Linked DNA regions of Homo sapiens. The protein of the gene in region 3 interacts with the protein of the main gene of each other region in a pairwise test. Each region holds a gene or a part of one and is shown on either strand. Other genes may lie near its edges. The genes, in order: SP3, ZNF75A, SPANXN2 and KHDC4.

The links.
Region 1: the proteins of SPANXN2 (region 3) and SP3 interact in binary tests that used the Homo sapiens proteins (3 or more experiments, as listed by UniProt).
Region 2: the proteins of SPANXN2 (region 3) and ZNF75A interact in binary tests that used the Homo sapiens proteins (3 or more experiments, as listed by UniProt).
Region 4: the proteins of SPANXN2 (region 3) and KHDC4 interact in binary tests that used the Homo sapiens proteins (3 or more experiments, as listed by UniProt).

Annotation. Positions count from the first base shown.
Region 1 is NC_000002.12:173,900,243-173,906,382, forward strand, and holds the end of SP3 (transcription factor Sp3), read right to left. Parts: 3' UTR 533-6,140; downstream 1-532. UniProt on the Homo sapiens protein: Transcriptional factor that can act as an activator or repressor depending on isoform and/or post-translational modifications. Binds to GT and GC boxes promoter elements. Competes with SP1 for the GC-box promoters.
Region 2 is NC_000016.10:3,308,457-3,315,497, reverse strand, and holds part of ZNF75A (zinc finger protein 75A), read right to left. Parts: coding exon 6,662-7,041; exon of another isoform or gene 4,552-6,661; intron 3,850-4,551; exon of another isoform or gene 3,746-3,849; coding exon 3,550-3,745; intron 2,822-3,549; coding exon 2,730-2,821; intron 2,450-2,729; coding exon 2,323-2,449; intron 1-2,322. UniProt on the Homo sapiens protein: May be involved in transcriptional regulation.
Region 3 is NC_000023.11:143,717,752-143,724,647, reverse strand, and holds the start of SPANXN2 (sperm protein associated with the nucleus on the X chromosome N2), read left to right. Parts: upstream 1-3,895; 5' UTR 3,896-3,979; coding exon 3,980-4,057; intron 4,058-6,896.
Region 4 is NC_000001.11:155,931,414-155,938,292, forward strand, and holds the start of KHDC4 (KH homology domain-containing protein 4), read right to left. Parts: upstream 3,001-6,879; 5' UTR 2,961-3,000; coding exon 2,923-2,960; intron 2,437-2,922; coding exon 2,220-2,436; intron 1-2,219.

The DNA.
Region 1 (6,140 bases), on a different chromosome or scaffold from region 3:
CACAGGATTTGAAGTCAGAAAGTCTGGAGTACATATTCTGACATCTACTAGCTGTGTGTTTTGGAGTGATACTCTGGCCCACTCAGCTTTAACTAGAAATGGAGATAATGCCTATTCCACCTATCTTACCATGTTATAAGAACTGAATAATGTTATAGTTACATGTGAGAAAGAAAAGTAAATAGTAGTCAGAAGCAGGACAGAGATGTCTGGCACCACCACTTCTGTTTAACATTAAGCTGTTGATTAAAAGTAGAGGCACAAGACTTGGAAATGAAGAGACAAACATTTTCTTCTTTGAGGACAATATGACTGTCTCCACAGAAAATCGTATAGGATCTACAGGCAAACTATTAGAACAGCAAAAGAATTATGTAAGATTATTAGACAAAATCATTTTACAAATATCAATAGCATTTATATACTCCAGCATTGATCAATTTAAACATTTAATTTTAAGAAGCCTATTCTCCAAAGCAACAACAAAAACATAAACTACATACGAATCAGTGCAATAAAGGATGTGTAAGGATTTTCAAAGAGACAATAATTTATTTTTAAAAACCATTAAAGACTTGAATTAATGGAGAGATACAGAATTATCATGGATAGAAAGATAACATTCTTTCCCCAAATTAATCTATAGATTCAATGTAATTCTAATAAAAAACCTTAACCCGATTGTTTAATTCTACATAATCATTTAATCCTAAAGTTCACAGAAAGAGCAAGGGGTCAAGAACAGTCAAAACCATTTTGAAATACAGAGAAGGGTGGGCAGAGGAGACTTCCTTACCGGATGTCAAGAATTTAGGATAAATAACAGAGAGGGCATTATAATCAGCAGGGAAACGTTGGACCATTCAATAAACTGCTAAGACAACTGATTATCCATATGGAAAATAATGGACTTTATGCCATAAACAAAAGTAATTTCAAAGTGAATTAACAAGATAAATAGAAAGGCAAAATCATAAAATTTTTAGACAAAAATTTTTATGACAGTAGGTAAAGAATTTCTTAAGACACAAAAGCCACAATTCAGATACAATAAAACTTCTGCAAAACAACACACACAAAACACCATAAACAAAATTAAAAGATAAGCCTTAGACTGAGAAAAGATACTATCAGCCTATATATCTCTAAAATATATCTTATATATAAAATAATATGTACCTGGGATTAATTAAGAATGTTTGAAGATCAATGCAAAAAATTGCAAATAACCCCAAAAAGCAAGTGGGCAAAGGATTCAAACAGGCAACTCCCATCAGAGGAAAATGGATTATGAACTTGTAAAAATATGCTCAACCTCACCAGAATATAGAAAAATTAGAATTAAAGTCATGAGTTATCATTTCACATCCATCAACCCATCATGTGCAGTAGCCTATATCCCCAGCCGTTGGATAAAATGAACAGCAGGGAAACAGTTAGTTGGACTTAAGCCTTTTTTTTTTTTTTTTTTTTTTTTGAGACGAAATCTTGCTCTGTCGCCCAGGCTGGAGTGCAGTGGTGCAATCTCGGCTCACTGCAACCTATGCCTCCTGCGTTCAAGCGATTCTCGTGCCTCAGCCTCCCGAGTAGCTGGGATTGCAGGCATGCGCCACCACCCCCAGCTAATTTTGTACTTTTCATCACCATGTTAGTCAGGCTGCTCTCGAACTGCTGACCTCAAGCAATCCGCTCGACTCAGCTTCCCAAAGTGCTGGGACCACAGGCATGAGCCACTGCCCCCGGCCAAGCCTTCTTTTCAATATTCAACTCAAGAGAGTGGTCTACTATGTGAGAAGACCCCTACAGTGAGAGACTATGAGGACTACCACACCTGGGCAGGGCTTGACTGAGAGATAGAAGGTGGAACCAGTGAGAAAAACATGCATTGTTTCTGCTACAGTTAACAAATATTTGGTTATCCCTACTGGTACCAATTTTTAAATATATCCATTGCTTAGTTTTTCAGGTCCCTTTTAAATTTCTTACTTATACTTGCTTTTCTTCCAGATGAATCTAGAATCATTTTGTCAAATCCCAAAACAAAATTTCATTGTTATTCATTGGAAAAAACATATCTGCCAAGGCAGGATTGGGAGGGTATGGAAAAAATGTGAACTCCTATAAATGGCTGGTAGGAATATAATTTGGTATGCATGTTATGGAGATCAATTTGGAAGTATCTGGTGAAACTGAAGATTAAGAATATCCTGTTGGCCAGTGATTCAAGTTCTAGATACATATCTCAAGAAATGCTCACATGTACACAAGGAAATATGTCAATTATTTCATTGCAGCATTGTTTATAAGTCAAAAATTGGAAATAACTGAGATGCTCATCAAGAAGAAAATGGATACATTGTGATAAACTTATTCAATGAACTACAGCATTTAAATGAATGATTTAGAGAAAGATGGTAGTGTGGATACATCTCAAAAACATGAGTGGTAAAACAAGTCCCAGAAGGTTTTGTACAGAATGATACCATTTATATGAAGTTTCAAAATCAGAAAAACAATCCTAGGTATGCATACATATAATAAGGATATAAAACCACTCATGGTATCATTCTGATAAACATCAAATTCAGAGCTGCAATTACTTATGTGGGTAAAGGGAGACAAATGAAATGAGACAGGGCTATACAGATTTCAGGCACAACTGTGATCATTCCTTTCTAAAAGAAAAAATATATAGGTAAAAATAAGACTATAAAAGTTGGGTGATAGATACTTAGGTATTTGTTACATTGTTTTCTGCATTTTTCTGTATTCTTGAAATGTTTCATAATAAAAAAGGCACAATACGAATACTAGCAGTTTCGTTAATAAATGTTGGCTGACAATTAGGTGGATCAAGGTGACTTAACAAGGTGAATTAACTCATTAATACAACAATAGTTGAAGACAACTATTTTCAAGTGTAGGAAGACTACTGATTCTTCCAGTGCTTACATTTACTAATACATAATATAATATGTGCCAGGCATTATGGAAAGTGGTTTACATGCATTAACTTATTTATCTCCATAATCACTCTATGAAGATGACGCTAGCATCATTCTCATTTTATAGTTAGAGAACAGGCTAAGAGTGGAAAGGTAAAGAGTGAAAGGTCACATAGGTGGTAAGCGGCAGAACTGGGAGACAAGCAAGCCCATGTGTGTCTAAGTCCCAAACCTATGCACTTAATCACTATATTATGCTATGAAAGGTTTCAACTTTACTAAATGAATAAAGATGGAAAAAAACACACAGAGTTACTAGGAGTAGAATTGAGAAAAATGCAATTAACACAACTTAAGAATTTTTAAAGGATCAGGGTGTGAGGAGGACTAAGTAATTGGGTATACATAATTAAAAGAAAGACCCAAACCTATTCTGAGTCCTAACACACAATGAAAATATACGTGACTTGGTGTGACATAGAAACACAGGCTAATGCTGGCAGAAAGTCAGTATTCCACAAGACCAACCACAGATAAAGATACAGCCATCTGTTAAGAGGGCGTCCTGAAACTGTAGAGGGACTTCTAAGGCTTTTAATCAGTTTTCTTGGACACATTCTACCAGTCTTTCAAGGCCCACCCTTTCTGATTCATCCAAGCTATATACTAAGTTCTGCCTTGTCTAAACCTGACTCACTTGGCAGGCAATAAACGTGACTTTTTGTTGGTATTTCCTAGGACGGCGGTCCCCAAACTTTTTGGCACCAGGGACTAGTTTTGAGGAAGACAATTTTTTCATGGATGGGGGTCGGGGGGTGGGGATGGTTGTAGGATGAAACTGCTCTACCTCAGATCATCAGACATTAGATTCTCTTAAGGAGGGCACTACCTAGATCCCTCGCATGCGGGGTTCACAACGGGGTTCGCACTCCTATGAGAATCTAATGTTGTGGCTCATCTGACAGGAGGCAGAGCTCAGGCAGGAATGCTCGCTTACCTCCTGCTGTATGGCCTGGTTCCTCACAGACCAGGGACCAGGACCAGTCTGTGGCCCAGGTGGTTCCTCACAGACCAGGGACCAGTACCGGTCTGTGGCCCAGGGGTTGGGGACCCTTTTCTATAGGATCAAGTCATCAACTCTATGGTGTTTTACGAGAGAATATACTGTACCTCAGTTGTCTTAGTTGGCATTATTTGGTAGCAAGTAACAGCCTTCTGACTTAAGAAAAAACTAAGTTGGGGAGTCTCTCTGTAAGGTTTTAAGGCTATCTTGTGGAACCCCAGGAGGATGAAATGCAGATAGTGAAATGCAAGACACTGGAACAAACACTGCCAAGTTATCAGGAATCAAGAAAGCCATTTTCTTTTTCTTCTGGGGTTGAATGTCATCTTTGCTTTCTCTGCCTCCCATGTATGTTCCAGATGTGACCTCCCAAGACATCAGTTTTCCAATTCCAAATTCTCAGGAGAAATCATCTAATTGGCTCAACTTTGACCAGATGTCCACTCCTTGTCTGATTTCTGAACAGCTCCTCACGGAAGGTGGCAGAAAGTAATGCTCAGAGAAGGGATGTAAGTCGGACAGATATCCTAAAAGGTCACTAAGCCAATACTTCCTGTATTTCGTTGTTGTCGATTAATCGGAGGCTTAGACTTTTTTTTGTGGGGGAAGGATGGAGGGGAGAAATAACTGCATTTCTCTGATGGCCTTTCCTAATCTTAAAAACCACTTCAGTGCTAGACTTTATCTTTCAGTCGCAATGAACCTGAAGATTCTTCGGCTGGTTTTTAGAAATGTTCAAATAGGATAGACTCTTACACAGGGGTGTAATTTCCTCAAGAAAATACACATTTAGGTGCTTCAGTCTTTTCTTCTTATTCCATCCTTTTCTGATAGGGCAGTCACTTCAGACACTTCATCCACTATCACTTTAGGTTCCAACTGTTCTTTTCACATTTTTGCATTAGAAATAAGACTTCTTCTCATTTTGGAAAAATCAATGTATGAACCATAGTCAAACAATGAAAATTCTAAAACACTTCACTACAGAAAAATGGAATCTCCAGAGTTAAGGGGGGAGGAAGGCATTGGAAGGAGGTTACCATTTGAATCTCTACCGTTAAGTCAGGCACTATGCTGAATGCTTATATTTTAATACAACAATCCTATCAACAGGGAGTACTATTGTTAGCCTCTTCATGGATGATGAAAATGAGGTTTTAAGGTAAGAAAACTACCAATATCACACATCTAGTAAGTAGCTTAGCATAGATTCAGAAGCAAGAGTTAAAAGGTGAAAAATGGGGAAAAGGACTGAAGGAGATAGGCCTTCTCAGGATATCATTCTTAACATCAAAAACTGTATCTTAAACGTATTTAATACAATGAAGTGGCATGAATCATGTTACATGACAATATACATGACACCTTTTTAAAAAATATATTCATATCATGAAGACTTTATAACATCAAATAAAAGCCAACATGGGAAAAAAAAAAACCTTGTATACCCTTTAGACTCCAGATTTGGCCAAGCGTGGTGGCTCACGCCTATAATCCCAACACTTTGGGAGGCAGAGGTGGAAGGATCACTTGAGCCCAGGAATTCAAGACCAGCCTAGGCAATATAGTGAGACCCCATCTCTACAAAACAAATTAAAATTAACTGAGCATGGTGGTGTGCACCTGTGGTCCAAGCTACTTAAGAGGCCGAAGTGGGGAGGATTGCTTGAGACCAGTAAGTGGAGTCTGCAGTAAGCCATGATTGCACCACTGCACTGTGTGACAGAGACAGACCCTGTCAAATATAGGGAAAAAACAAACAATAAACCCTGGACTAGAATGAATTTTTCTGGGGAGAAGGTGTAGGATTCCAAAAAGACTAGGAATCACTGACAAAAAAAATTCTTCTCTTTTGCAATTTGGCAGCCCCTCTTAAAAATTTTTCCACTCTGTCCCTCACAAAGTCCCCCATCACCCAACATACCACACTGTACCTTTGCAAACGCCATTTCTGCTGAGTTTCCCAGACTTCATGCAGAATTCTCCCTCTTCTAGGTTTCTACAGTACTTTGTTTCTGCCACTAATATATATATTTACATTATACGCAAATCTGTCTGAACAAGGCAAGGGGCCAATGTTGTTTCTTCAACACTAAATAAAATTATGAGGTGATTTCACAAAAATATCAAAT
Region 2 (7,041 bases), on a different chromosome or scaffold from region 3:
ACTAGCTGGGCACGGTGGCTCACGCCTATAATCCCAGCACTTTGGGAGGCCAAGGCAGGTGGATCACAAGGTCAGGAGATGGAGACCATCCTGGTTAACATGATGAAACCCTATCTCTACTAAAAAAATACAAAAAAAATTAGCTGGGCATGGTGGCGGGCACCTGTAGTCTCAGCTACTTGGGAGGCTGACGCAGGAGAATGGCATGAACCCGGGAGGCAGAGCTTGCACTGAGCTGAGATCGCACCACTGCACTCCAGCCTGGGCGACAGAGCGAGGCTCCATCTCAAAAAAAAAAAAAAAAAAAAACATGACAGTACTTTGTTTGCCCTGAGCAACTGGATAATGCTGATGCCCCTTACTGAGATGGGAAAAACATGATGGAGAAGGTTTGGGGAAAGGGAAAGGGAAGGGATCAAGATCTCCACGTAGGACAAGGAATGAGCACGTACATCTGGAAAAGCTCCCCAGGTGATCTGGATACACCACCTACACCCTCCGCTACACTATCTAGTTGAGAATCAACCAGCTCCTGGAACACTGAGACCCTCTCACAGAGGTTCATTCTCAGTAAACTGAGAACAGATTGCTCAACTTCTACACAAAAAGAAGGGAGAATCTTTACCTAGACAAATGACAGTCTTACAGTTTTCCTGCATTACATCATTGTAGAGGGCCTTCTGAGTGTAATCCAGTAACTCCAATTCTTCCTGAGAAAAATATATGGCCACTTCTTCAAATGTCAACAAGCTCTAAAGAAGAGAATGGACTTCAGCTCTGAACTTGCCACTGCAGAAGCAGCCTAACTGCGTATGAACTGCATGGTAGGCCAGGTGCTAAAGAAATTAACAGAATACGATTTAAGAAAAAAAAAGGCGGGGGCCCACGGGGGCGAAGGCAGAAGAAAAGGAGCCAAGGGATCAGCAAACAGCCTAGGAGGTACCCAGTTCCCTCTGGGCCAAGCCTAATTGTCCAGGGTAGAACCTCTGGGGCTAACATGCCTCAGGGCACATGCTGGGCAGTGTGGGTCTTGGGCAGCAGGGAAAGGCAGATAAGGTCATGCTCAGGTAGCCCTACACTGCTGGAAAGCACAGCTCAACTGGGACTGAGGCAAGAGGAGCTCAGGTGCCACTGTCCAGTCTTTGGTGTTTGTCTGCTCAGGAAAGACTAAAATCTGTTGAGCAGGCACAGCTGTGGGTGGAAAAGAGCCAGAGGATATTTCTCTTGTTTCTATGATCATCCTTAGCTCATTTCTAAAATACAGAAAATCCTGATTCTTTCTGGAAAGATAGGACACCTTTTTAAGAGTGTGTATGGTAACCACTTGGTTCTTTGTAAATTAGAACCAAGTGTCTACCAGCCCCTAGAACCGGTTCCCCAGATGATTATCCTCAGTTTTCAAGAGGAAAGTTAATAAAAAGATATATATATATAGCGTTTTTTCCCCTTGCATGATATACATTTTTCTGAGTTGAGCAAAACTTAGATGTACTCAATTTGAAAATGAAGTATTCAGGAAGCCCAGTGTGCCAAATAAAATGAAACAAGAGGGTAAAAATGAACTTGACAAATTCAATTAACAGCAAGGAGACTAGCTAAGTGGCTGGTGAGGACTGAGCAAGGGCTTCAGTAGCAAATGAGGGCAGACAGATGAGCAGGAACCAGACTGTAGAGTGTCCTGGAGCCCTGGTAATATCAGACTTTTTTTTCTGAATGTAAGTGACCACATGCTTTTGAGGAAAGGAAATGTCATGATCTGATTAGGTTTTTAAAAGATCAATCTAGCTTCTGTATAGAAAACAGACTGTGGAAGGGCACAAGGAGATGCAGGCGCACCTGTTAAAAAGCTACGCATGTATGCCTGGTTCAAGATGACACTGGCTTACACCAGGATGCTAACAGTGCAAGAAGATGAGACATTGTTGCAGTCAGGATATGTCAAAGTAAAGCTAAGAAAACTTGCTAATGAATTAACAGTGGGGTATGATGACAAGATCAGAATAAAGGAAAACTGTTACTTTGTATGCCTTGAGCCACTGGATAATGAATGTGCCCCTTACTGAGATAAGTAAGACACAGAAGAGGAAGTTTGGTGGAAAAGAGAAGGAAAGGATAAAGGACTCAATGTGGGATAAGCAATCGGCATGTACATTTGGAAAAAGCTCCACAGGTGATCTGGATACACTACCTACACCCTCCCCTATACCATCTAGATGAGAATCAACCAGCTCCTGGAACAGTAAGACACCCCTCACTGGGGTTCCTTCTCAGTAAGCCAAGAATAGAGTACTCAACTACATAAAGGGAAGGGAAAATCTTTACCTAGAGAGATGACAGTCTCATAGTTTTCCTGCATTACATCATTGTAGAGGGCCTTCTGAGTGGGATCCAATAACTCCCATTCTTCCTGGGAAAAATACATGGCCACTTCTTCAAATGTCAACAAGCTCTAAAGAAGAGAATGGACTTCAGCTCAGAACCTGCCACTGTACAGAAGCAGCCTAGCCACCTGGCTATGAATTGGCCAGGCGATAAAGGAATTAAAAGAACATGATTTTTTTAAGTGAGAAGGCAGAAAAAAAGGAGAAAAGGCGTCAGCCCACAGCCTGGGAGGTACCCAGTTGCCCAGAGAACACCCGGGACTAACACACCTCTGAACCCCTCCTGGACAGTATTAATCATACATAGCAGAGAAAGGTAGCCCTCAACAGCTGGAAAGCACAGCTCACCTGGGACTCAGGCAAGACGTGCTCAGGTGTCACTGTCCAGTCTTTGGTGTTTGTTTGCTCAGGAAAAGCTAGAATCTGTTGAGTAGGCACAGCTGTGGGGGGAAAAGAGCCAGAAGAAATCTCTTTTATCTATAAACATCCTGAGCTCATTTCTAAAACACTGATCCTGACTTTTTAAGTACAGATGGGACACCTTTACACGTGTGGTGTGTGTGATGCCTGAAGCAGTCTCTTCATAAATAAGAATCAAATATCCACCAGCCCCTAGAACTAGTTCCCCAACTAAATGTTTCCTCAGTTTTCATCAGAGAAATAAAAGGGAAATCCCTTTTTCCTCTCATATTTTTCTGAGTTAGGCAAAAATTAAAGATATCTTAAAATGAAGTACTCAGGGACTCCACTGTATGGTAGGAGATGAAGTTTTTTGTCTTTTATTATGTTTTTCCTGGTACACAACTGTTTTCACATTCTGCCACTAACAGCCCATCTGATCTCAATTCCTTCTGTATTTTACAAGGATGAAGTGGCCCCAAGCCTTCCCACTCCATTTCTTTCCTTCCTCTCCACTAGTCTAAGGAACAGAGTTCACACTGTTATTACCAAGAGTTCTGTGGTTTAGATATTTCTGTTCTCTAGGCCTACTCCCACTTTCATCCACAGTTGGCATTTCTACTGCTGCCTGGAAGGACATCATAGTTGCTATCAAGGCTGGTTTTACAAATCCACAGAGCAGGGTATTCAAAAAATGCCCATGACATTTTGGGTGAATAAACTATTATCACAGCTCCCAGGAGAAGAAAATTATCATGAAGCTCCTTACCCCTCTCATACACAGGCTCAGTCTCTTTATGAGTATTCCTGCTGAGCTGTTCTTGCAGACCCTCGTATGTATTCCAAAATTCTTCATCTTGGGATACGCCCACTGGTTGGGACTCTGTTGGCTTCAGCCCGAAACTTGAGGCCTCTGCTGTTTCTCCCAAGAGCACTGCCTCCTTTCCCAGCTCATGGACTGCAACCTAGAAATAATTCCCATCCTTGTTACCACAGAACTTACTTTTGGTTTGTGGGGGTGGAGGCAGAGCGACAGGTGTACAGCCCACATTGTGGGTAGTATAAGACACTAAAAAAAATGACAAAAAAAGGCTTAAAGAGATACTGGGCCACCAATGCTCCACAAATGACTATACACAAATATGAGAAAACTAGGGTGAAAGGAAACAAACTGTGGTGCCTGCCAGCCCTTTAACACAGCAGCTTCTACTCCTCTGTATACGGTCTAGGTCAGGCCACTGGCAGGGTTGGGCAGCCCACTCATTTTTTTTTTTTTTTTTGAGATGAGTTTTGCTCTTGTTGCCCAGGCTGGGGTGCAAAGGCATAATCTCGGCTCACTGCTACCTCTGCCTCCTGGGTTCAAGTGATTCTCCTGCCTCAGCCTTCCAAGTAGCTGGGATTACAGGTATGCACCACCACGCCTGGCTAATTTTTGCATTTTTAGTAGAGACGGGGTTTCTTCATGTTGGTCAAGCTGGTCTCAAACTCCCAAACTCAGGTAATCTGCCCACCTCAGCCTCCCAAAGTGCTGGGATTATAGGTGTGAGCCATTGTGCCCAGCCAGGCAGGCCACTCATTCTAATACTGTCTTGTCAGGCCTTTTCTGTTGACTTCAATCCCACAGTTGTGGTTTTCTGTCTTCTAGTTTTCTCTAAAATTCAAATAAATGAATTTAAAAGTTTTCCTGTCAGCCTGATTATCCCTATAGCCAGCGAAGGTTTTCAGAGAATGGGGATAGAATGGAGAAAAAAGGGGAGTGGCTCCAACCTACCTCCAGATGATTCTGACACCAAACATAGGTCCTGCCCTGTATTCTTCCCAGCAGACCCGAGGTCAGCAGATGTGTCGCCACCCACCAAGTTCATACCCTGGCTCCCAACTTGTCAGCAGAGCCAAGGAACAAGCATTAAGGGAAGGCAGTAGAGACTTTCATCTACTATAGGGAGGACATTACCCATCAGTGCATTTCCTGTCCTTGGCTATTCTGTTGGGATTTTTCTTTTTTCCAAATCTTTGTTTCCCTTTTTTCTATGTTTTCTTTTCTTGTGCAGTCTTCCCCTAGTTGTTTTTTTTGTTTGTTTGTTTTGTTTTGAGACGGGGGTCTCACTCTGTCACCCAGGCTGGGGTACAGTGGTACAATCATGGCTCACTGCAGTCTCATCCTCCCCAGGCTCAGGTGATCCTCCCACCTCAGCCTCCCGAGTGGCTGGGACTACAGGCACACGCCACCATGCCCAGCTGATTTTTGTATTTTTTGTAGAGACTGAGCTTCACCATGTTGCCCAGGCTGGATTTTTCCTAATTTTTAAAAACATTTTTTTTTTCACATGGAGTCTCGCTCAGTTGCCCTGGCTGGAGTGCAGTGGTGCAATCTCAGCTCACTGCAGCCTCTGCCTCCCGAGTTCAAGCCATTCTCCTGCCTCAGCCTTCTGAGTAGCTGGGATTACGGGCACACGCCACCATGCTCAGCTAGTTTATGTATTTTTAGTAGAGACAGGGTTTCAGCATGTTGGTCAGGCTGGTTTTGAACTCCTGACCTTGTGATCCGCCCGCCTCAGCCTCCCAAAGTGCTGAGATCACAGATGTGAGCCACCACGCCTGGCCTAAAACATTTTTTTTTTTAAGAGACAAGGTCTCACTCTGTTGCCCAGGCCAGAGTACAATGCTGCAATAATAACTCACTGTAGCCTCAAACTTCTGGGTCAAGCAATTCTCTCACCTCAACCTCTTGTGAAGCTGGGACTAGAGGCATGTGCCATCAGCCTGGCTTATTTTCTTTTTTTTTTTCATAGCAACAAGGTCACACTATGTTCCCCAGGCTGGTCTCAAGCAGTCCTCCCACCGCGACCCCCTAAAGTGTTCGAAATATAGGCATGAGCCACCGAACCTGGCCAATTTCTCCTTTTCTTTAAGTGTCCTTGTTTTCCTGTGTTCTCCTTGTGGATCTGCCTTTTTTTTTTTTTTTTGACAGGTTCTCACTCTGTCACCCAAGGGAGTGCAATGGTGCCATCTCAGCTCACTGCAACCTCCACCTCCTGGGCTCAGGTGATTCTCCTGACTCAGCCTCCCAAGTAACTGGGACCACAGGTGTGTGCCACCATGCCTGGCTAATTTTCATGTTTTTTGTAGAGACGGGGTTTCACCATGTTGCCCAGGCTGGGCTCAGGGGATCTGTCTGCCTTGGCCTCTCAAAGTGCTGGAATTACAGGTGTGAGTCACTGCACCCGGCCCGTTTTTTTTTTGTTTTTTTTGTTTTTTTTTTTTTTGTGAGATGGAGTCTTGCTGTGTTGCCCAGGCTGGAGTGCAATGGTGCGATCTCGGCTCACTGCAACCTCCCAGGTTCAAATGATTCTCCCTCCTCAGCCTCGAGGATAGCCGGGATTACAGGCACCGGTCATCATGCCCAGCTAATTTGTTTATTTTTGTAGAGAGAGGGTTCCACCATGCTGTCCAGGCTGGTCTTGAACTCCTGACCTCAGGTGATCTACCCGCCTCAGCCTCCTAAAGTGCTGAGATTACAGGTGTGAGCCACTGCATCCAGCCTCCCTGACTCTTTATTACCTTTTATTCTGTTTCTAAGTACTTAAGTCCTGTCTCCTTGGCCAAGCCAGACTAGGCCCAACACCCTCAATTCACCCTGGCTCCAAAGAGGGCAAAAGCAACTCTCTTTCTCTAAGGCCAGGGAAGTATCTACCACAATCTCTGAAACCTGTGAACTTTTCTGTGGGCCTGTAGTTTCAAGTCCCACCTTAACTGTCCTTAAAAAAAAAACCAAACAATGACCTACCTAATCCATCTAATTTCTCAACTAACTGCCACCATCTCTACTATATCCACCTGCATCCTATTTCACTGTACATGTCAGGAATCTTTCTTCTCACCCCATTCCATGTTTGACCAGATTCCCTCTGCAAGTGTTCTACCAGAGCCACAGCCTCCTCAATGCTCTGTGGATGGTGCTTCTGCATCTGGGTCTGTGTCTCCCTGGGCAGAATAGTCAGGAACTGCTCCAGCACCAGCAGTTCCAGTATCTGCTCTTTTGAGTGGATCTCTGGCTTCAGCCATAGATGACATAATTCTTGAAGTTTGCTGACAGCCTCACGGGGTCCACCTGCTTCATCATAGGTGAAATTCCGGAAGTGCCAGCAAGAGCTCTTAGGATCGAGACAGTCCATTTGAGGAGATTTTTTACTCTGACCGGAGCTCTCTCTTGCAGGCCCCTTGGTCTCCCACAAAGCCCTGATCTGAGGGTCCAAGTACG
Region 3 (6,896 bases):
TGAAGCCTACTTCTGTCAATTTGTCAAACTCATTCTCCATCCAGTTTTGTTCTCTTGCTGGGGAGTTGTGATCCTTTGGAGAAGAAAAGGTGTTCTGGTTTTTGGAAGTTTCAGCTTTTTTGCCCTGGCTTTTCCTCATCTTCATGGATTTATCTATTATTGGTCTTTGATGTTGGTGACCTTCAGATGGGGTTTTTGTGTGGATGTCCTTTTTGTTGATGTTGATGCTATTCCTTTCTGTTTGTTTTCTTCTAACAGTCAGGCCCCTGTGCTGCAGGTCTGCTGGAGTTTGCTGGAGGTCCACTCCAGACCCTGTTTGCCTGGGTATCACCAGCAGAGGCTGCAGAACAGCAAATATTGCCGCCTCTTCCTTCTTCTGGAAGCTTCGTTCCAGAGGGGCACCCACCACATGCCAGCCGGAGCTCTCCTGTATGAAGTGTCTATAAATCCCTCCTTGGAGGTGTCTCCCAGTCAGGAGGCATGGTGGTCAGGGACCCACTTGAGGAGGCAGTCTGTCCCTTAGCAGAGCTCGAGCATTGTGCTGGGAGATCCATTGCTCTCTTCAGATCCAGTAGGCAGGAACGTTTAAGTCCGCTGTATCTGCGCCCACAGCCACCCCTTCCCCCAAGTGCTCGGTCCCAGGTACATGGAGTTTTATCTATAAGCCCCTGACTGGGGCTGCTGCCTTTCTTTCAGAGATGCCCTGCTCAGAGAGGAGGAATCTAAAGAGGCAGTCTGGCTACAGCAGCTTTACCGAGCTGGGGTAGGGTCCGCCCAGTTGAAACTTCCCTGCAGCTTTGTTGACACTGTGAGGGGAAAGCCACCTACTCAACCCTCTTAATGGTGGACACCCTTCTGCCCACCAAGCTGGAGCATCCCAGGTCGACTTCAAACTGCTGTGCTGGCAGTGAGAATTTCAAGCCAGTGGATCTTCGCTTGCTGAGCTCCATGGAGGTGGGATCTGCTGAGCTAGACTACTTGGCTCCCTGGCTTCAGCCACCTTTCCAGGGGAGTGAACGGTTCTGTCTCGCTAGCATTCCAGGCGCCACTGGGGTATGAAAAAAAAAACTCCTGCAGCTAGCTTGGTGTCTGCCCAAACGGCTGCCCAGTTTTGTGCTTGAAACCCAGGGCCCTGGTGGCATAGGCACCCGAGGGAATTTCCTGGTCTGCAGATTGCAAAGACCATGTGAAAAGCATAGTATCTGAGCCAGAGTGCACTGTTCCTCACAGCACAGTCCCTCACAGCTTCCATTGGCTAGGGGTGGGAGTTCCCTGACCGCTTGTACTTCCCAGCTGAGGTGACACCCCACCCTCCTTTGGCTTGCCCTCTGTAGCCTGCACCCACTGCCTAACCAGTCTCAGTGAGATGAGCCAGGTACCTCACTTGGAAATGCAGAAATCACCTGCCTTCTGCATTGATCTCGCTGGGAGCTGCAGACCGGAGCTGTTCCTATTTGGCCATCTTGCCAGCCACTCCCTTTAATTGTTTATTATTCATTTGGGTTGAAAATATAATTACTGAAGTTTTCAATAGGAGTTATTCTATAAAGTACGTTGTAATCTTTCAATAGAAATATGCACTAAATGTTTTCTTAACATTTGGATTAATTTTCCTTGGATAGTGATATACCCATTGAAACATTTTTGGTAAACAAATTTAGAAAACAATTTTAAAAGGTAGTAAGATGATTGAAAGCTGTTATTTTCAAAAATTGTAATCAGTTTCTGACTTACTGTGTTTGATGTGGCATATGCCTTTTGGTTTTCTGTTTGTTTTGTTTTCCATAACATGATATGACAGGGTGTTATTCTCACTGTTGATTGCAGGCAAGAGTACAAAAAATTATTAGAAGTTAGCTTGTGAGCATTTAATAAATGGAATTGTTGAACTATAGACAATGTCTGGGGTTCACTAAAAATGTATACCTTAATAAGAATCTTCTTTTGATTTGTTAATGTTTAGATGACAGTCATGAGAATGCAATAAATGCCTTGTGTCTGGAGGTCAGCGGGGTATCTTTCTAGGCCTTTCTTGTTTTTATGGTGTATAAAATAAAGTTATGTGAGCTTGATGAACACTGGAACAAAATTCCAGGGTCTACTTCTCGTTTGTCTTATTTTTAGATTTTTTTTTTCATTATCAGGTTTTGTGACTTCTTATAGAGAATGAGACAAGTGTCAGTCAACCTGTGGGAGAAATCCTGGGCCATGCCTTCTCTATTTTCAGTCCTCTTTCTTACTGTCTTTTAAAATATTTTTAGATTTTTATTTTGAAACAATTATAAATTCACAAGAAGTTTCAAAGATACGTACATGGAGGCCTTTTGTACCCTTCAACCAGTCTCTCCCAATAGTAAAATCTTCAATACACTACCACATTACACTATCAAAACTAGAACATTGACAGTGATGCAATCCAGAGCTTTTTAAGATTCAACACTTTTCTTTTGACTATTCTAGGCACTTTATATTTCCATAGGAATATTATAATTATCTTGTCAATTTCTATTAAAAAGGCTTTTTAGAATTTTGATTAGAATTTAGTTGAATCCACAGATGAAATTGGAAATAACTGCCATTTTACAATATTGAATCTTCCAACCGAAAATCAAAGTATAGATCTCAATTTTTTTCTTATGTCATTAATTTATCATTGTAAATTTTTGTAGTTTTAAGTGTACAAGTCATTTACATCTTTGGTCAGATTTATCCCTAAGCCTTTAATATTTTTAGTGATATTTTAAATTGCACTGTTCTTAGTTTCAACTTTCAGTTGTTGAAATTAACTTCCAGTCCACCCTAGGACTACCATTGGCTAAAACATTGTCTCTTCTAATATAGAAACTTCTCATATGTAACTGCTAATATATAAACATACAATTGATTTGTGTGTTGATCTCTTACTTTGCAATTTTGCTAACCTCAATTAATGTAGAACCATTTTTTTAGATTGACTTTTCTACATATACTCTCAGGTAGTCTTTGACAAAAGATACTTTTACTTCTCCCTTTCCAATCTGAATGCATTTTTTTTTCTTTTACACTGGACACAATCTCCAGTACAAAGTATAACTGTGCCCATACTGGTGCACATGTGGGTCTTAGATTGTAGCATCCTGCAGGTAAATACTCAGAACAACTTCCAGCACTTGAATATCCACTCCTTCCCCCACCCACATACTGGCAGAATTCATGTTGGGATACTACATTTACTATGAACATAGACCCCTGATTTGAAACAAGACTAGGATACATGGTAAAGAAAGTTTATTCACCAAAGTTTTGACAGACTGAAGGCCATTATTTCAGATTGGAGATAGGAAACTTAAAAGAACTACATGGACATTGGGTAAAAGAACATGGGTTGAAATTTGCCTGGCAGTAGCCTAAAAGTAAATGGTCTTCAAGGTGCATGTGAAGGAACTGTAGGAGGGAAATGGGATAATTCACATCTCCACCAATAATTAAATGTAGCCACACTAGCTTGGAGGGATTTGAGGTGAGACATCTAAAATACTAAGTCATGGTGAGGGCTGGAAGACAAAAGAATGAATGACTTCATAGGAATGACTGTGGGGAAGGGCTTGAAGGAATCATCCTCTCACTTCCATGTGAACCATGAACATTAAACATGGAGAAATGAGCAGCAGCAGATTAGTTTGGGATGCATCTTCAGGGGATGCTGAAACAACAACAGCATTTGGTTTCCTCTACACCCCTGTCATCCGTCCCCCACAAGCCCAGGGAGTGGTCAGCAGTGGTGCTTTGTGATGTCTAAGCCACCCTAGGACTGCCATTGGCTGGGACACTGCCTGTATGATCAAACAAAGCTCAAGAGTGTGGCTTTGCCTTGCCACCAGGAAGGTATACATAGGGAGGGCCAGAGCTCTGGGACATCCTCCTGGCAAGCTTCAATATAGCTGTGGAAGTCTGCAGTCTACAAGAGCCTACTATAGACATTCTACAACCAAGCAGAATCATGGAACAGCCGACTTCAAGCACCAATGGGGAGAAGAGGAAGAGCCCCTGTGAATCCAATAACAAAAAAAATGATGAGGTAAGATTGTTAGGTTTTGAAGGGAAGGTGAGGGTGAAAGAAAGACACACAGAGAAGGGACGGCTCAAACAGCAACACAGGAATACTGCAGACACCTGTGGAAGTGGGGGACCCGCTTAATGCCAGAACCCACCGCCGCTTACAGGCTGGGGTGCTTATAGGTATGGGTGGGAGGGGCCGGGGCAGTATGGCTTGCTGCCCGGCAGGATATTGATAAGATGTTTTTATGATCAGGCTGTTTGGTCCTTTTTCCAGTGGGATGTCATTGTGGTGTTTCTTGGAACTTTGCCCAGCAAGATACCATAGGAAAGTTTCTTTAGTTGGACCTGTGTCCGCCTTGTGTTACGACGATTAGGCAAGATTTTTCTCATGGCCCGAACCCCCGTGGAATGTTTCACTTTGATCAAGGTCTGCAAAATAGCAGGGTGCTTACTAAATGGTGGTTTGGACTCACATTCTTGCCTTCTACTTTAGTATAAAAGGAAGAGGGGCATTGTTGATTATCTGGCTGCTTGCTGCCGAATAGGGGAGCTGTAATCAGGGTTTGGGTTTTGAAGCAGGGGGTGACGGACTTCAGAGTTGTTTTCCTGGAGGCACTGGTACCGGACTTGGCAGAGGAGAAGGATGGTATCAATGTGTTGCTGGGTGGCTGCCTGGAGAGGGGAGTTTAGCCTTCGGGAGATAAAGCAGGATATGAAGGTGAGTATACATCGGCCAAATGTACTATCAGGAGGAGGAAGATTAACGGCCCTAAGAAAGGGACCACCTGCTATCCCAGTGCTGAGTGCATCAGAGATGTTTAGTTCTGCTAACACTAGAATGAGATGTACAGCCTGCTTAGTGTGTGTGGAGGAAGATGAGACAGAAGCTACTAAAGGAACCTGGATGGTCTGCTTGTTAGGCAAAGTGTTAATGTTTAGATTGAAACACAAGGGTGCATGTTCCTGACCAATTGGCCAGTAGGCAGAGATAAGAGTTTGTGCCGCAAAGGAAGAAGACACTAGGGGTGGACAGACAAAAGTTGTAGGTTATGGTGGCAAGTCATGAGAAGGTGGGGGTTGAATTCTGCACAAACCCTTTGTTTTAACTTTTATGTTTTTCCAAGTTGAATACCTGCCAGCAAGGGTAGCCCCTCTGAAGGCCTGATAGGAAATGTTGGTAGTGGAGGAGGTGAAGGCTGTTTGGTTTTGGAGAGAGAGCAGGAAATGGGTTTTTGTAACTAATAGCCATTGCGGTCCTGACAGCGCAGAAGGATACAGGTTGCAGTTGAGGGAATTGTTTGTGGATATTTTCCAGGGAGCGCCCTTGACTTGGATACATGGAGAGCGGCTCCGGCAGAAAGGGGAGGGGTTGATAAGAGGTATTTTCTGGAATCCGACTGGTAACATGTTTAGTTAAGAGGCTATGAGGTGAAGGAGGGTGACAGCCCTGTGTGTGACGGTGTGGGTGGATTTGATGGATTGGTGGGGGGGGAAAGGTGATTAGCCGAGCAAGATTATAAGCAGGTTTTGCGAATGAATTGGTCAATTAGGTGAAATGCAGGTTTATTTTGGACAGGGTTCATGTGGCCAGGTTAACAGGAAGGGCTGTGAACTACTGGATTTGTGTGGACAAACAAATTTAACAGTTGGAAGGAAGAGGGGAGTGTGACTGATTTAAGAGGCAGTGAGGCTGATGAAGGGGGCTCATCTGTTAGACGTTCGGGGTGGGGACTTAGAATATCCCACAGATAGAGAGGACAAAAGGAGAAAGAGGAGATTTGAGTAGGAGTGAAATTTTGGAAGGTGCCCTGAAGTCATATCTCCTTGATTAGTGTGACAAATTGGCCTGGACTATTCAGGGTCATGGGGAAGGGAAACCAGGAAAGATCTGAAATAAAGTAGGAGACAAAAGATTGGAAACTGGAGACAGAGAGTGTTATGGACTAAGGTGTTCTGGATTGGCAACTTCTGGAATTCTTGTTAAGTACAGTGAGGTTGGTCTTGTCAGGGAAGGAGAATAATTTGGGGGTGAACAAATTTCTAGATGTGGATCTGGTGCTCTTTTTAGTTTGAAATGTGCATTCAGTGTGCAAAGGATGTTAGCTTTGGCGCTGTGGGAGTAGTTAGCATCACCTGGTGAGAATTCCTCCACTTAGGTTGGAGAGCGGGGGAGGAGGAGTCTGTGATTCAGACCCAGCCCGCTGGTTGTAGGGACAGGGAGGAGTGTTTTGAGGATGGACTTTTAGGCTGGGTCAAGTAAGCATTTGCGTACTGTCTTATTAGATGTTGGGTGAGGTGTAACGCCGGCCAAGTATTCCATATAGAATGGGGGGAAAATACAGGGAGATTCTGGAGGATAAATGGAGCATTTGTACATGAATTTAAATGGGCTTAGGCTGAGCGCTTTTAGGAAATGACTCATAATCGCATGAGGAACAATGGGAGAAGTGAAGTCCAGGCCATTTTAACCTTTAAGGAGAGTTTGGTTAGTTGTTGTTTTTTATAAAATTTTTCCTGAAGATTCGGAGTGGTAAGGAATATGGAAAGCCCATTTAATGTTTAGAGCCTTTACCAGCTGTTGGTTAAACTGAAACAAATTGGCCCATTGTCTGACTGGATGCAAGAGGGGAGTTTAAACCGGTGGATAATATGGGTGGAGAGAATAGAAGCGATGGTGTGTGCCTTTTTGGTGGTGGTAGGAAAAGCTTTTATTCATCCAGAGAATGTATCTACTATTGTTAGAATGTATAGGAATCACTTTCTGGGGAGCATGTGAGTGATGTTGATTTGCTAGTCCTGCCCTAGTAAGTGTCCTCAGGTCTGGTGTGTGGGAAAGGAGATGGTTTGATAGCTTCCTG
Region 4 (6,879 bases), on a different chromosome or scaffold from region 3:
GCAAACCCATCTCTTCAAAAAATAAAAAAAATTAGCCGGGCATGGTGGCATGCGTCTGTAGTCGCAGCTACTTGGGAGGCTGAGCCTGGGAGGAAGAGACTGTGCCACTGCACAGTCACTGCCTGGGCAATCAAGCCAGACCCTGGAACCACAGGCATGCACCACACCTAGCTAATTGTTTTTGTATTTTCTGTAGAGACAGGGTTTCACCATGTTGCCCAGGCTGTTCTTGAACTCCTGGCCTCAAGTGATCCACCCACCCGCTTTAACCTCCTGAGTAGCTGGGACTACAGGGGCCTATCTCCCCAACCTATGTCTAGAAAATCTGCTCAAGAAGGTAACATACTGTTGTTTACTTTGTGCATTAAATACATTTTTTAAATGTGGAGGCAAAACTAAATACAAACTCAGCAATATCACCTTACCTTTATTTAACCCCTTATAGTATTCATTTACATTATCATCTCAATGAATCCTTATGGCCGCCTTTAATAGTACTTATCAATGTTGTCCAAGAGAACTTTTGGTGACAAGGGTTCTAGTCTATCAGTCGAATATGGTAGCCATTAGCCACATGTGTCTCTTGAGCACTTGGCAGGTGGCTAATGTGACTAAAGGTCTAAATTTTAAATTGTATTTTGGTTTTGCTTTGCTTTTTGCTTAAACAACAGGAATTTATTTCTCACAGATATGGAGCCTGAGAGTATTTAATTATTTGTATTATTTAGACAAGGTGTCACTCTGCTGCTCAGGCTGGAGTGCAATGGCAAAATGACAGCTCAATGCAACCTCAAGCTCCTAGGCTCAGGTGATCTTTCCACCTCAGCCTTCCAAGAATCCAAGAAGAATTACAGAGGAGCTGGGACTACAGGTGTGAGTCACCACACCCAGCCCCTTAATTTTAATTTAAATTGCCACATGAAGCTAGTGACTACTGCACTACACAATGCAGGTATATATTACCAACGAGAAAGCTGAGTTTCATTATGCCAAAGCCATGTAACCAGTAACTGTGGATTCTGGGTTTCAAACTGTGGATTCTGGGTTTTTAGGTTTTATGATTCTAAATCCAGTGTTTATGTATCCTGCTGAGGTCAACTACCTAAAGATTATTATTTTAAGAAAAAAAAAGAGCTTAAACGATTAACATCAGTATTAAAAATCTTAATATACAAGGAGCACTACATCTTTGTCAAGATGCTTTTAATTTTTCCTCATAAACCTTATAAATGGATGACTGACTCACACAATCTTTGCAAACAATAGGCTGCGCCTGGTGGCTCATACTTGTAATCCCAGCACTTTGGGAGGCAGAGATGAGCTTGGTCAACATGGTGAAACCCTGTCTACTAAAAACACAAAAAAAAATTAGCCGGGCATGGTGGCATGCACCTGTAATCCCAGCTACTCGGGAGGCTGAGGCAGCAGAATCAGAATCACTTGAACCCAGGAGACAGAGGTTGTAGTGAGCCGAGATCACCCCACTACTGCACTTCAGGCTGGTGACAGAGTGAGACTCTATCAAAATAAATAAATAAATAAATAAAACCCTACAGGTTCTAATTAGAGATGACACTATGGGGCTCACTTGATTTACCTGAACTCCTCTGACTTCAGGGAAAAAGCACATATATTAAAAACATGTTATGTTGCTTTAAATGACTATGGAAATACAGCTTAAGCTGAACTAAGTGAACAAGGACAAGACAAGGTATTTGGTCCATAAATGTAATCAGCCCAATCAAAAACGCCTCGTAAATATGTATTTGTAACAAAATGTGTTCTGGAACATTCCAAAACTAAATGATCTCTCAACTACTATATCCATTTATCCTTTACTAACACAAATTATTATGCGATTACAGGATTACAAACAACTTTTTTTTTTTTTTTTTGAGACGGAGTCTCATTGGGTCGCCCAGGCTAGAGTGCACTGGCACAATCTCGGCTCACTGCAACCTCCGCCTCCCGGGTTCAAGCAGTTCTGCCTCAGCCTCCTGAGTAGCTGATTACAGGCGCGTGCCACCATGCCCGACTAATTTTTGTATTTTCAGTAGAGACGGGGTTTCACCATGTTGGTCAGGCTGGTCTCAAACTCCTGACCTTGTGATCCACCCGCCTCGGCCTCCCAAAGTGCTGGGATTACAGGCGTAAGCCACCGCGCCCGGCAAAACAACTATTAAATTCGCAATTAGTGGAGACCCTTCAACTTCAAATACCTTCTCAGAAGCATTCTGAGTTGGTTTCAGCTTCCCTTTTGCCATGAGCATGGCATTAATCTTGGCAGCCACAGCAGCAGCAGCATCCAAGGCTCCTGAAGGAGCAGCTGTGGTGCCCCCAGGACTTCCCCCACTGCTGGTGACCTCCCCACCTGGGGCCGCTGGCGGGAGGAAGAGAAGTGGGGCTGGAGCTGGTTGGTCCCATTTGCTGCGGCGCCTACATGGAGAAAAAGGAAAACATTAGGCCCCAAAGCTTTCGTGTATGTTATTCTTTCCTTACTACGCCTTAGCACCCCATTTTCCCTCTATTATATTCCATTTACACCTCCGAATCACCTTCCAAATCTAAAACTCCCCTCTCCTTAAACAATTATTGCTTATTTAACAAACCCCCACTTTCAACCCTTCCCCAAAATCTTTCGTTTCTACTGTCACCTATATCGAAAGACTCCACTCTATCCTACACGCTCTAGTTTACGCCTTCCCCTTGGCTCGCCCTTCCAAAAGTCCCCGTTTGCCTCCTCCCTCGGATCCCCGCCGGCCCTTTAAGGGCCCCAGGCCTGCTCAAGATCCTTCTCCCCAAACGTCCAGCCCTTTACTTCCCACTTAAGGACCCTTCCACCCTATACGCAGCTTCTCAGGGTCCCTCCGCCTCTCCTGCGCCCCAGTGCTCGCTCCGATGCCCTCGCCCCTGAAGCCGTACCCGCCAGCTCCAGGATGTGTCGCGCTCCCCGCGGACATGGCGACCGCTTCTACTCAACCACCCGCCAACTATCCGACTACCACCTCTCGTCACTTCCGCCCCCAACGTTCTTACGCACAGCCTCTTCCGGTCGTGGGGCCGAGCGGTTCCGGTGAAAATGTCGATTCCGATTGGACTCTCGATGATTTAAAGGCATCTGGCGTTTCTGAGGCAGGTAGGGTGTGATCTTCCGGGTTGCGCCTTAACCTTAAGAAAGATGGCTGCTGTGCCTACTATAAATGCGGAATCGGGGCTAGCTGAATCCATCTTTATCGTGGGCATGTTGTTAGACTAGAAGACAATATGCATGAGTCAGGAGATTAAACAGGTTTCTCCTCAAATTCCGCTACGTTTGTGTTGAGTCCTAGTTTCTGTCTGGGGAGACAGCCTTCCCGCGGCTTTTGCCCGTTTCACGTTTCTGTTACTTAGGAAAAGGAAAAGGATTCGTTGCAAAGATCATTTGGAGAATTTCTCTGTTTGTTTGCTTCATTTCTGTGCACCAAGCAGGGAATATAAAAATAAAAAGATGAATAAGCCGCAGGCCCTGCCATTCTGGTACTCTCAATGTGGCAAGGCAGGTACGCAGGCAAATATGTATGATAGAGTTGTATATTAAGCAAAGGTCGAAGAAGATAAGCTGCTCATCTTGCTGGAGCGTTTAAGAATGGGACGCTAAAAAGCCGGTTGAGTACTGGAGAGGCGATCAAGCATAGGTTATGGAGCACCCTGTTCTGGCATCTGTGTACTTAACGGTTGAGCTGGCTGGAGTGGGAGGCCAGAAGATGAAAGGCCTTGAATGCTATGCTGAGGAGTTTGAGTTGATTCTGTAGGCTAAAGGTTTCTTTTTTTTTTTTTTTTTTTTTTTTGAGACAGTTTCGCTCCGTCACCCAGGCTGAAGTGCAATGACGCGATCTCGGCTAACCACTCTCCGCCTCCCGGGTTCAAACGATTCTCCTGCCTTAGCCTCCCAAGTAGCTGGGATCACAGGTGCCCGCCACCACGCCCAGCTAATTTTTTGTTGTTGTTGTTTTGTATTTTTAGTAGAGACACAGTTTAGCCATGTTGGCCAGCCTGGTCTCAAACTCCTGACCTCAGGTGATCCACCCGCCTCGGCCTCCCGAAGTGGTAGGATTACAGGCGTGAGCCACCGCGCCCTGCCGAGGCTAAAGGTTTCTAACCTTTAGGATGTCTTGGAGCTTCAATGAGTCTCCTGATCCTCCCACCTCAGCCTCTGAAGTAGCTGGGACTACAAGCACGGGCCACCACACCTGGCTTTTTTTTTTTTTTTTTAAGAGACCGGGGTGGTAGGGGGTGCGGGGGTGGGGGGTGTCTTACTATTTTGCCTAGGCTGGTCTCAAACTCCTGGGCTCAACCGATCCTACCACCTCGGCCTCCCCAAAGTGCCCCTTTTCCTCTTCTCCCCAAAACACAATGCTGTTGGGATTCTGATTGAAATTACATTATTTATTATATTTGTCATTTTAAAAAATTTGTGATGTAACTCCTATGCCATAAATTTACCCTTTTTAAAGAGTAAATTTAAGTGCACAATTCAGTGTTTTTTAGTGTGTCCACAAGATTGTGCCACAATCATCATTATCTAATTCCAGATTATTTTCATCACCCCAAAAAGAAACCCCTCACCTGTTAACAGTCACTTCACATTTCTCTTGCCCCGCAAGACATGGGCTACCACTAATCTACTGTTTCTCTGGATTTACCTATTTTACACATTTTATATAAATGGAATTATACAATGTGTGACCTTTTGTATCTGGCTTCTTTCACTTACAGTGTTTTCAAAGTTTATTCATGTTGTAGCATATGTCAGAACTTCATTTTTTTATCACTGAATAAACTTCATTCTTTTTTATCACTGAATTTCTTTTCCATTGGATGTATAGACCACAATTTATCCATTCATCCATTGATTAACATTTGAGTTGTTTCCACCTCTTGGGTATTGTAAGTAGTGCTGCTGTGAACATTCACAAGTATTTAAGTATCTGTTTTTAATTCTTTAGGGTTTACATGTAGAAGCAGAATTGCTAGGTCATATGGACATCTTGTTTAACTTTTGTGGAACTGCCAAACCAACTGGCTACACTATTTTACATGCCCACCAGCAATGTACCAGGGTTCCTATTACTCCACATCATCCCCGACCCTTGATATTTTCAATTTTTTAAAAATCTTTTTTCTTTTTACTTTCCTTAGTCTTTCCTGTGTCGTATCTTTTTTTTTTTTTTTGCCTTGTTAAAGAACCTAGCTTTTAGTTTTATTCATCAATTCCATATTAATTTTTTTTTTTTGAGATGAAGTTTCACTCTTGTTGCCCAGGCTGGAGTGCAGTGGCGTGATCTTGTCTCACTGCAACCTCCACCTCCCGGGTTCAAGTGATTCTCCTGCCTCAGCCACCTGAGTAGCTGGGATTACAGGTGCGTGCCACCACACCCAACTAATTATTTGTATTTTTAGTAGAGATGGGGTTTCACCATGTTGACCAGGCTGGTCTCCAACTCCTGACTTCAGATGATTTGTCGGCCTTGGCCTCCCAAAGTGCTGGGATTACAGGCGTGAGCCACCACACCCAGCCTTCCTTTTGGGAAAATTTATATTGTTTTCCTCCCTTACTTTTTTTTTTTTTTTTTTTTTTTTTTGAGTCTCACTCTGTTGCCCAGGCTGGAGTGCAGTGGCGCGATCTCGGCACACTGCAAGCTCCGCCTCCTGGGTTCACGCCATTCTCCTGCCTCAGCCTCCCAAGTAGCTGGGACTACATACAGGTGCCTGCCACCACGCCCGGCTAATTTTTTGTATTTTTAGTAGAGACAGGGTTTCACTGTGTTAGCCAGGATGGTCTCGATCTCCTGACTTCATGATCCGCCTGCCTCAGCCTCCCAAAGTGCTGGGAATACAGGCATGAGCCACTGCGCCCGGCCCCCCTTATTTTCTTAAGTTAAATGTTTAGTTCACTTATTTATAATTCTTTTTTTTTTTTTTGAGATGGAGTTTCACTCTTGTTGCCCAGGCTCGAGTGCAATGGTGCTATCTCAGCTCTCTGCAACCTTCACCTCCCAGGTTCAAGTGATTCTCCTGCCTCAGCTTCCTGAGTAGCTGGGATTACAGGTGTCTGCCACCATGCCTGGCTAATTTCTGTATTGTTAATAGAGATGGAGTTTCACCATGTTGACCAGGGTGGTCGTGAATTTCTGACCTCAAGTGATCCTCCTGCTTCGGCCTCCCAAAGTGTTGGGATTCCAGGTGTGAGCCCCGTGCCCAGCCTTATAATTCTCATAAAAGTCTTAATTTCACCAATAACATTTCTCTTTTGATGGCCAAGTGAGGTGACTCATGCCTATAATCCCAGCACTTTGGGATTCCGAGGCTGGTGGATCACTTGAGGCCAGGGCAACAGAGTGAGACCCCATCTCCACAAAAAATAAAAATTAGCCAGTGTGGTGGCACTTCTGTAGTCTCAGCTACTCAGGAGGCAGAGGTGGCAGAATCACTTGAATCGAGAAGGTTGAGGCTACAGTGAGACATGATCACACCACTGCACTCCAGCCTGGGTGACAGAGCAAAGAAACATAAAATAATAAAACATTTCTCTATTGATACAACGGAATCTGATTTTCTAAACTCAATTCAATAGCACTTTGTTCTACTGTTAATTGAAAAACTCTCTCTAAAGTGAGATACGTTAGGCTGAGGTCATTTTTCCTTTCTGTTGGGTGCATGGTCAAAAAATTGACATATGAATCAATTATTCTTTCCTAGTGGTCATTTAGGTATTATTAGGTCATTTACTACCAACTCTAAAGCAGTGACACCATGGAGAGCACATAAAATCCATAGAGCTAGGTCCCATAACCTCTCTGTCAGTCTCCTCTCCTTGCTACTCCCCCTGTGTTTCAGTGG